2 separate regions of the Homo sapiens genome follow, and region 1 is linked to region 2. Evidence: fine-mapped expression QTL. A gene starts in region 2. The other region holds a variant in brackets. All regions are shown on one strand. Distances are between the middles of the regions.

The links. PIP is the estimated chance that this variant, and not a neighbour inherited with it, causes the effect.
Region 1: its variant is the best candidate, but not a certain one, in a credible set for the expression of IPCEF1 in whole blood (INTERVAL, PIP 0.61).

What each region holds. Positions count from the first base shown.
Region 1 is chr6:154,237,176-154,242,400 of GRCh38, reverse strand. The region is part of intron 5 of IPCEF1 (interaction protein for cytohesin exchange factors 1); the gene reads left to right. It also overlaps a transcript of OPRM1 not described here. Among named protein-coding and RNA genes, the nearest start is that of IPCEF1, 120 kb to the left of the region's middle. RefSeq lists a silencer at 2,739-2,939. The variant T/G (reference allele first, on the strand shown) is at 3,018.
Region 2 is chr6:154,354,537-154,359,761 of GRCh38, reverse strand. It overlaps IPCEF1 (interaction protein for cytohesin exchange factors 1), which reads left to right and starts at 2,959. Exons shown (of 12, transcript NM_001130700.2): 1 at 2,959-3,090.

The DNA.
Region 1 (5,225 bases), 120 kb after region 2:
TTGCCCATGGGAATTTCAAGAAATGGAGTCATGTGTAAGGACTGATTTTGACAGAAAATAGTTTTCCAGGAAAGGATTTCCACCTCTATTCTTAAAAACAGATATGGGAAAAGGAGCAATCTGAATTTGCTAGAAAGGCCCCAAGGTTCCGATTAGGTCCTGCACAGCTGCTCTCATTTTGCTAACACATTATTAGGATCTTTGAGAAGTAGAGGTGGGAGATGCGCATTCTGGGGACTAATGGGAACAAAGGAATGAAAATATAAACGAGCTGTGCCAACCCACTGTGTTAGCGATTATATTGAATTCTCATAATAGCCGAGCAAGATAGATTTTATTATTCCCATTTTTCAAGGGAGTTTACTGAAGCTCAGGGAATTTAAGTAACTTGCTCAAAGTCTCATAAGGAGTAAATAGCAGAACTGGGATTTAAAACAAAGGTTTCCCAACGACAAAGCCAGGCTCTTTTCCCCAGGCTGCATAGCTTCTCCATTTAGAGGTGACTTAGGGCCAGTGAATGGGGGACTGAGACATGTAGTGATAGTGTAGGAATGTGGGTTTGATCCAGCAGGCAGTAGGGAGCCACTGCCTATTCTTGAGCCGGAAGGTGAGCTCGTGAAATTGGCATGCGAAAAATATGAACCTAGCAGCAATAGATTGGATGTTTTGGAGAGTGAGGGAGCTGCCAGAAGGCCAGTTAGGAGATGGTGAGAAAATGCAGGCGTTCAGACATGAGCTCCTGGACTAGAGTGCCAACAGTGAGAATGTAGGGCGCACTACGCAAATAAAAAGGGGTGAGGTATGAAGAACGCTTGGATATAAGACACAAAAAATTTGAGGCTAAAATAAGCATGATTCCAAGTTTTAGAGCCTGGGGAGACTGGGAAAATAATATGAAAATTGAGGGACAAAGAGTTTGTGAGTAAGAAGGGTGGAATTTCATTTAGATTCACCGTCGCTTACTTTTTTGGTGTATTTTAGTTTTGTACATTGTTTCTTTGTATAAAATTATTAGATACTTGTGTTTTTTAGTTTTCATTTATTGACACCATGTGTGCCATTGCATCACCAGTTCAAGGAAGCTTGAGGCCCCTGAGCCTTGACTAGAAAAAATGAATCATCCAACTATCTGTTTCTCTCTCTCTCTTTTTTTTTTTTTTTTTTTTGAGATGGAGTCTCACTTTGTTGCTAGGCTGAAGTGCAGTGGCGCGATCTCGGCTCACTGCAACCTCCGCCTCCCGGGTTCAAGCGATTCTCCTGCCTCAGCCTCCTGAGTAGCTGGGATTACAGGCGTGCACCACCACGCCCAGCTAAGTTTTGTATTTTTAGTAGAGACGGGGTTTCACCATGTTGGCCAGGATGGTCTCGATCTCTTGACCTCATGATTTGCCCGCCTCAGTCTCCCAAAGTGCTGGGATTACAGGCATGAGCCACCGCACCTGGCCCCAACTATCTATTTCATAAAAACTTTAGACAAACTGAAGAGGTTTGTAGGTTAATATCTGGTTTTGTATATATTACAGAGACTTTAATGTTCTTTGAGGCCCCAATATGTCTGTACAATTGTGATTGTGTTTCTCCTTTGCTTTCTGAATTGTGAAAGTTTTGCATGTTTGGGGATTGAAGTAACTGTCTGCATGAGATGTGTTCCATCTCTAGCTGCATGCACACTTCATGTGAATTTCAGAGGCTCTTATCTTTGGAAGGCATATTTCTTGAAATCAGTTTTATGAGAATCTCTATAGTGAAGATCTAATCACTTTTTACATTGGGCAGAATTACCCATGTAGAAAATGTTACTTGAAAGTCAAAATTTTCTCTTTTCATGAGACAGCTATTCTGCAAGTTTCAGTAAATATAGAGTACCTTTTTTTTTTTCAGCTCAAGAAAAATAAAGAACAGATTAATTTTCCCTGGGAAAGTGACATTAAGTCTTCTGAACCTTTCATCAGTAGGCATAGATTAGCATACATTTTGGAAAATGTCTGAGTGAGTTTACAATAGATTCAAAAAAATTTTATAGGAATTTATGAATACATTAGTCATAGCTTATTATATTCTTTCTCCCCCAGCTACAACATAAGCAGCAGAGGACGTATTCTTTACTTGTCTGATTTAAACTGTGTTTCTGTATCCTAGAAGTTGGCAGGTACAGAGCATGTACCAGTATTTTTTGAAGGAATTGCTTAATTATTACATTACTTAATTATCAATTAGTTGTATGAATTAACTAATTAAATTGAGCATTATTATTGAACACTGATGTGTTCCCAGACTTCTACCAAAATGAGAATTATGGGCTTTTAATTTATTTGAACTCTATATTTATTGTCTTAGCCAAGAACCAGCCTCTGAGCGTATCCCAAACAAAATTCCAATGTTTTGAAATGTTTCTTCAAGGTTGGGTGCTGTGGCTCACGCCTGTAGTCCCAGCACTTTGGGTGGCTGAGGTGGGCAGATCACTGAAGGTCAGGAGTTCAAGATCAGCCTGGCCAACATGGTGAAACCCCCCTCTACTAAAAATATAAAAATTAGCCAAGCGTGGTGGATATGCCTGTAGTCCCACCTACTTGGGAGACTGAGGCAAGAGAATTGCTTGAACATGGGAGGCGGAGGTTGCAGTTAGCCGAGATCACATCACTGCACTCCAGCCTGGGTGACAGAGCGAGACTGCGTCTCAAAAAAAAAAGTTTCTTCAGTGAAGACAATTCAAACTAACCATGTGAAATTGATGAACTTTTGGCCAACATATGGGTTCCTAGAATTTGCATTAGAAAGGAGAATGAGAAGGTGGAATGTTGACATGTCTGGACAGGGCAAAACGTGACATTTCAGCAGCTGTAGGTGACCGGTTTACCGCAAGACAATGACTCATGGATCAAAGGGGTAAAAATGCTTGCTTAGTTAACATTTGGAAACCTAAATGTTAGAATGATTGAGGACTTTCTTGAATTCTGTTACTTCTGACATTCTAATTTCACATGTGTGGAAATGAATTTTTAAATGGACATTTAGTT[T/G]ATTTATTGTCTATAATGTATTATTGTGTTCTAACAATTATTTTCCTTTGCAGATCCTTGAATGTATTTCTAAAATAATGGTTCCCCTGTCATAGCTTTATGGCCACATTATCTGTAGTTGGGATGGGCAGTTCTCAATAACTTCTTGTTGTAATGTGGGAACAATTGCTCATGTTGCCAATATTATTTTCCTTTAAATTCTTTCCAAACTTTTCAAAATTAACTGTGGAACACCGAGAGCCAGGAAATGTTGGTTTCTTTTGTCTTGTTCTCAGAAGGCAGTGATATGCTTGGGCATTGCCAGAGTGAATGCCATGGCTGAGGTATTTTAGAGGACAGTCTTCTTAGCTCACAGCAGTGAAATGCCCACTCAGGGGATACAGCTTCCTTCTTTTCTCTGGTGGACAGTGCATAGTACTTTTGTCGGTGTTTCCACAACTTCTTTTTTTTTTTAAAAAAAACAACAATATAGAATCCAACTTTTTACTTTTTGGAAATTTAAAGTAACTGAAAAATGCTTTAAAAGATTATACAATAGGGCCAGGCATGGTGGCTCACGCCTGTAATCCCAGCACTTTGGGAAGCTGAGATGGGAGGATCACTTGAGGCCAGGAGTTTGAGACCAGTTTGGTCAACATGGTGAGACCCCATCTCTTAAAAAACAGCTAAAAATAAAAATAAAAATTATAAAAAAGGTTATACAGTAGTATGTGCTCATAGGAAAAATTTGAAAATAGAAGTAAGCGAAATAAAAAAAGAAGACAGACATGGAAGCAAACACACAGAGAGAAATAAATGAATTAAGATCATACAGGCTTGGCCGGGTGTAGTGGCTCATGCCTATGATCCCAGCACTTTGGAAGGCCAAGACAGGCAGATCACCTGAGGTCGGGAGTTTGAGACCAGCCTGACCAACATGGAGAAACCCTGTCTGTATTAAAATATATATATATATACAAAATTAGCCCAGTATGGTGGTGCATGCCTGTAATTCCAGCTACTTGGGAGAGTGAGGCAGGAGAATCGCTTGAACCTGGGAGGCAGAGGTTGCAGTGAGCCGAGACAGCGCCATTGCACTCTAGCCTGGGCAACAAGAGTGAAACTCCATCTAAAAAATAAATAAATAAATAAAGGTTCCTACCACCATGGCACGAGTTTAGACATTTTGTTGTATGTGTTTCCAAGCATTTGTTTCTATGTTTTACAAAAATAAAATAATATCATACATGATGCTGTTGTCACTTGATTGTCTCACTAAGTAATACATAGAAACATATTTCCATGTTGATACATGTATATCCACAACATCATTTCTGATGGCTGTAAGAATTATATATGCATATATGATAGTTGATTTGCCAATGCATAGAATCTAAAATCAAAAATGGCTTTTATCCTAAAATCGTTTAAAATCGTTAACAGGAAATAGAGTACATAAGTGCACACACACTAACTTAAAAATAAATTGATATATATTGAATTGATATTTATAGTGCATAAATGTATAAGTATTGACACATATATAGATATGTATGTGTATAAATATTAACATATATATAGATATGCATGTGTATAAACATACATATGTATATGTGTGTGTATATAATTTCATCATTCTTGAAGCAAGCCAGCAGTAAGGTGGATTTCGGCAGCATGGTATAAGGGACAAATGGCACCTGGATTCTAATCCTGTACTTTATTATGAGGTCTTGTAGCTCTAAGTCAGTGATGCAAATGTCTATGCGTCTATTTTCTTGCAAGTAAATGTTGACCAAGAACACTATCTCTATATTATTCAAAGCTACTTTGAGAAGATTGAGTGCAGCTAAAAGCAATATTTAAAAAATCAAAGGAATGTATACAAACAAAAGCAATGTGTTTGCCTAAATATTGAGATTTTAGGATGCAGGAGAATTGTGCTAGGAATTTTCAGATACCAGGAATGGTTTTTCTCAGTGACTATGATCTGTCCTGTGTAAGAAAGTCCAAAAATACACCTACCGACCCCGTGTAAAGGATGATTTTAAGCTACAAGATGGGAATGGACTAGAAGACATTGGGTACTTGTCAATACAGCGTTTTCCACCCTGGAGGAAGAGTTCAGTTAACACATGAGTTAATGGTGAGGGTGTGGGCACATTTCCCAAGCAACAGAATGCCAAGTGGCCCATGGGATGAGCTGAACTTTTCATTAGGTTTGAGGATTTT
Region 2 (5,225 bases):
CCTGGCTACTCAGGAGGCTGAGGCAGGAGAATCACTTGAACCCTGGAGGCGGAGGTTGCAGTGAGCCGAGATAATTAATGCCACTGCACTCCAGCCTGGGTGACAGAGCAAGACTCTGTCTCAAAAAAAAAAAAAAAAAAAAAAGCACATCATCCATCATCCAGCACATGCTAGATGAGGCTCTTATTGCCAGAATGTGGAGTTCTGACTGTGGAGTGCTCATATCCACATACAATGCCTGTATTCTCTGCATGATTTCACTATGTGTAGAGACGAATCCTCGGTATGCTGCCCGGGGTTGGAATTGTGTGTGTTTGCTGTGCAGAGGCTGGGCGGACAGAGAGATTTGAAAGAGGGGTATGGGAGGGGCTGAGTTCTTACAGACTTTGAATTACTCTTCCTGTTTTCAGTCCTGTCACCCTATCACTCATTTAGCTCTCTTAGCTTCTTTTGGCTTGAGTTCCGGTCCTCTCAGGGATTCAGCACCGCACACGGGCAATTTCCTCCAACGCCGTGTTCTCCTAACTAATGAGATATTGTGGTTCCCCTGCCTGCCTCCATCTGTTATTGCTCCTCCATCGGCTTTCAGGCTGCCAGAAATCTGTTGTGCTCTCCCAAGTTCTGATGCTTTTCCTCCTTTTTTGGGTTATTGTGGGTTTATATCTTTTTTTTTCTTTTGAGACGGAATCTCGCTCTGTCACCCAGGCTGGAGTGCAGTGGCGCGATCTCAGGTCACTGCAACCTCCGCCTCCCAGGTTCAAACGATTCTCCTGCCTCAGCCTTCTGAGAAGCTGGGATTACAGGCTCGTGCCACCAGGCGTGGCTAATTTTTTGTATTTTTAGTAGAGACAGGTTTCACCATGTTAGCCAGGATGGTCTCGATCTCCTGACCTCATGATCTGCCAGCCTGGGGCTCCCAAAGTGTTGGGATTACAGGTGTGAGCCACCGTGCCCGGCCCTATAAACTTTTTATACTTTTCTCATTTTAACGGAGTCTTTGGGGAGGGAGGGAGCAAATCTGTGGTCAGCCCGTCATCTTGAACTGACAGTCCGGCCGTTTTGAGGATTATTCTAATTCTACAAATCATCTTTGCTCAAAGAATTTAAGTGGCTCTATTCTGGCCCCATAAAGGTAAATAACATGTCTTTTGAGGATATCTTTGATGATGGCATCTAAATGTCTGGTGAGAAGCCAGGCCATGCTGTTGATACCACTAAATTCCTTTAATATCACCTAGTACCATTTTTTTTTCTACGTAAAGCAGGGAACTAGAAGACAACTCAATATAGGGAGAAGATGAGGCAGCACTTCCAGAAATAGAAGTGTACACAAACAAGAAGCCGCTGAGAGAACCTTCATTTTGTTCCTGCTCAAAATGTACAGCATCTTCTTTCATTTTTTCACTCCTCCACAGATTTAGTTTACATTTTATCTTTGTCTTAGTCATTCAGGCTGTTATATCAAAACACCGTAGCCTGGGTGGCTTACAAACAAAAGACATTTATTTCTCACAGTTCTGGAGGCTGGACATCCAAGATCAAGGCGCCAGCAGATTCATTGTCTGGTGAGGACCTGCTTCCTCGTTCCTAGGTGACTGTCTTCTGGCCATGTCCTCATATGGTGGAGGGGTGGGCAGATCTCCAGGTTCTCTTTAATAAGAAAATTAATACCATTCATGAGGGCACTGTCCTCATGACCTAATCACTCCCCAAAGGTCCACCTCTAAATACAATCACATTGGGGATTAGGTTTCTATATATTCTATATATTCTATATATATATATATATATATATATATATATTTTATATATATATTATATATATATATTTTATATATATATTATATATATATATTTTATATATATATTATATATATATATTTTATATATATATATATTTTATATATATATTTTATATATATATTATATATATTATATATATTTTATATATATATTATATATATTATATATATTTTATATATATAATATATATATTTTATATATTATATATATATAATATATATAATATATATATTATATATATAATATATATATAATATATATATTATATATAATATATATATAATATATATATAATATATATATTATATATATATATTATATATATATATACACATACATATTTATTTATTTATTTATTTTGAGTTGGAGTCTTGCTCTGTCTCCTAGTCTGGAGTTCAGTGGTGCGATCTCGGCTCACTGCAACCTCTGCCTCCCAGGTTCAAGCAATTCTCCTGCCTCAGCCTCCTGAGTGGTTGGGATTACAGGCATCTGCCACCACGCCCAGCTGTATTCATTTCCCTAGAAGGTATAGAGAAACAAGAAGCTGGTGTTGAAAGGGAGATTGGGAGGGCAGGAATTTGTAATGAGATGGAATATCTCTGACTTTCAGCCTGCCATTTTCCTTTTCCAATGTGGGAAAGAAAAGTTTTGTGGTTAGAGACTCTTCTATGTCTACTGCAAAAGATGGCAGGCTAAGACTTATTTTTATCCTAAAATACGTTTTACAAATGTGTCTGTACCCTCTCTTTATTAGAGCATTATGAACGATTAGGAAAGGAGGAAAGAGGGAAATCTGAAAGAAGATTGAACCTAAAGAGGTTGAAGTGGCATTTCACCCAAAAATGCTGAGAATGACTCTGCAGATCATCTCACCCTCCATGCCTGTAAATGAACATCCTTGCCTCCAAAACAGGAAAGCAGAACCATGAACTGTTCCACCAATGTGCTCGGCAAATGAATACACTGGGCAGTGCTTAGTGATCAATGAACTCAGGCAGATGGGGTGTGCTTGCCTTACATGTACTGTGTCCTGGATATGGGCATCAAGGAAGGGTTTCATAACAATGAGAAGGAAGAACGTTAGGATTGAGGAAGTGGAGATGATACTTCCTCTTCTTTCGAAAGAGCTTTACTCTCTGATCAGCTTTGAATGTTAGTTCTGGGTTGACTGAGTTTCCAGAGCTGAGGCTGCTTTAAGTAGAATCCTCAAGCTTGGCCTCAGAGTACTATGAGGCTTCTGAATCCAGGAATAAGACTGCTCTTGGATTTACTCTCTTTGTATTGCATGTAAGTAACGTCACTTCTTGGCTGATGTATGAGAGGTAACTGCTTGACAGATCAAGATGGCAAAGCAATGGATACCCTAGCACTCTCCTTAGAGTAGTGAGGTAGGAAATATGACTTTGGGGATGTAATATTCACTCAGCTCTCTGTAATCTGGGAAGCCAGGTGCTAAAGATTCTTTAATTCTGTGAAAGCTTTGAAAGAGGAGAGAGTTGTGTACTCACTCTGCTTTTATGTTTCTTAAATGGGTGTTGTCTTGATAGGTGTTTAGACTGCAGACCACAGGTTTGATTTAGAAAAGCACAATTCAGCATGTATTTGGGTCCTGAGGAGTTCATTTGGGGAAGCACTCTGGGGCCGCCCTCTTTCGAGAAAGTGTGTTCTTTGCAAGGGAGCTTCCTTTGCATGGAGGCAGCTGGGGGACATTTTACACTTTGATAAAGGTCTCAGGCTTGCCAAAATATCTCTGGTATAAAAATGAAAGCTAGGTGTTGTTGGTTCAGAGTCTTTTAGTAAGGGTGTCTGGGGCACTTGATTTTTCTTTGCTGGGGTATATGTGAAAGTATTTAATTATAGAAGTCAGAATTATAACCCACTGAAGCATCTTTGACTACAGCAGTGGGCTCTATTAGTCTTGAGTGGCCTATGTGTTCCTAGTGCTGTCCTTGATAAAGTCTAATTTCTATCGAGTTATTTATTTTATGTAGAAAATTGAAACCGAGGGCTGGGCACAATGGCTCACACCTGTAATCCCAGTACTTTGGGTGACCACGGCGAGAGGATCACTTGAGGTCAGGAGTTTGAGACCAGCCTGGGGGCAAAATAATGAGACCTCATCTCTACAGGAAGAAAAAAAAAAAGAAAGAAAAGAAAATAGAAAATAGAATGCCGGGTGCGGTGGCTCACGCTTGTAATCCCAGCACTTTGGGAGCCCAAGGCGGGTGGATCATCTGAGGTCAGGAGTTCGAGACCAGCCTGGCCAACATGATGAAACCCCGTCTCTACTAAAAATACAAAAATTAACTGGGCGTGGGAGCATGCACCTGTAATCCCAGCTACCTGGGAAGCTGAGGCAGGAGAATTGCTTGAACCCGGGAAGCGGAGGTTGCAGTGAGCTGAGATTGCGCCACTGCACTTCAGCCTGGGTGACAGAGCAAGAGTTCATCTCAAAAAAAAAAAAGAAAGAAAGAAAGAAAAGAAACAGAAATGGAAAGAACACACATTTCTTTCTGCTCACATCATGCAAGCAAGGAAGAAAAGGGTGTAAGTTTGTGTATGTGTTGATGAACTCATTCTTTAATTTACCTTATAATTTCCTTCCATTCCTCTTTTTATAAATCAAGTGTCTTTTCTGGAGTGGGTCCATGTATGAACTATTTCAGGCAAGCTGTGTTAAGCAAATATACATCATCAGAGTATGGAAATAGGAAGTTCTTTCCTGCGGTAGTTTGCTGTGGCAATAAGAGATAAGAAATTACTTCATCACTATTGCCTGAGACTTTCCTTTTGACTCGTGCATCCTTTTGAACAGCTCACTTCTGCTTTCCATCCAGCTTGGAGGCTCTGCAGTGTGAGCTGATAATTGCAGTACAGGTTAACAATTTGCAAGTAGGTCTAATGTGGCAAATGGTGTGTGTGTGTGTGTGTGTGTGTGTGTGTGTGTGTGTGTGTGTGTGTGAAGAAAAATCCTAAAAAATAAGCTTTTTAGCCTTAAAGAGAATCCTGCAAATGGAGGAGTTACTTGTGCTCCCAAGTGCTCAGAACAGTGCCTGCTCTCAGTAAATATTTGTTGAATGAATGAATAACTGGCATAATTCATAAAATGAATGTGGTAGGAAAGCCATTGCTTTATCTCTGTTACTCAGGCACTTTAAAAAGTGAATGTTAGAAAAGATCAGAGTGGAGGAGGAGAGGAGAATATGAAGGTGTGGAGTAAAGAAAGGGTGTGTAGAACGGGGATCAGAAAAATCCCCAGGTCAGTAAAGTGAAAGGGTTGGCGATACATGGTGGTGGAGGTGGAGGTGGAGATAAAGGGGGTGGTGTTGGAAGTGGTGGTCGTAGGGGAGGTGATGGTGGAAGTGACGGTGGAGATGGTAGAGGTGGTTGTGGAGGCGATGGTGGAGGTGGTAATGGAGATG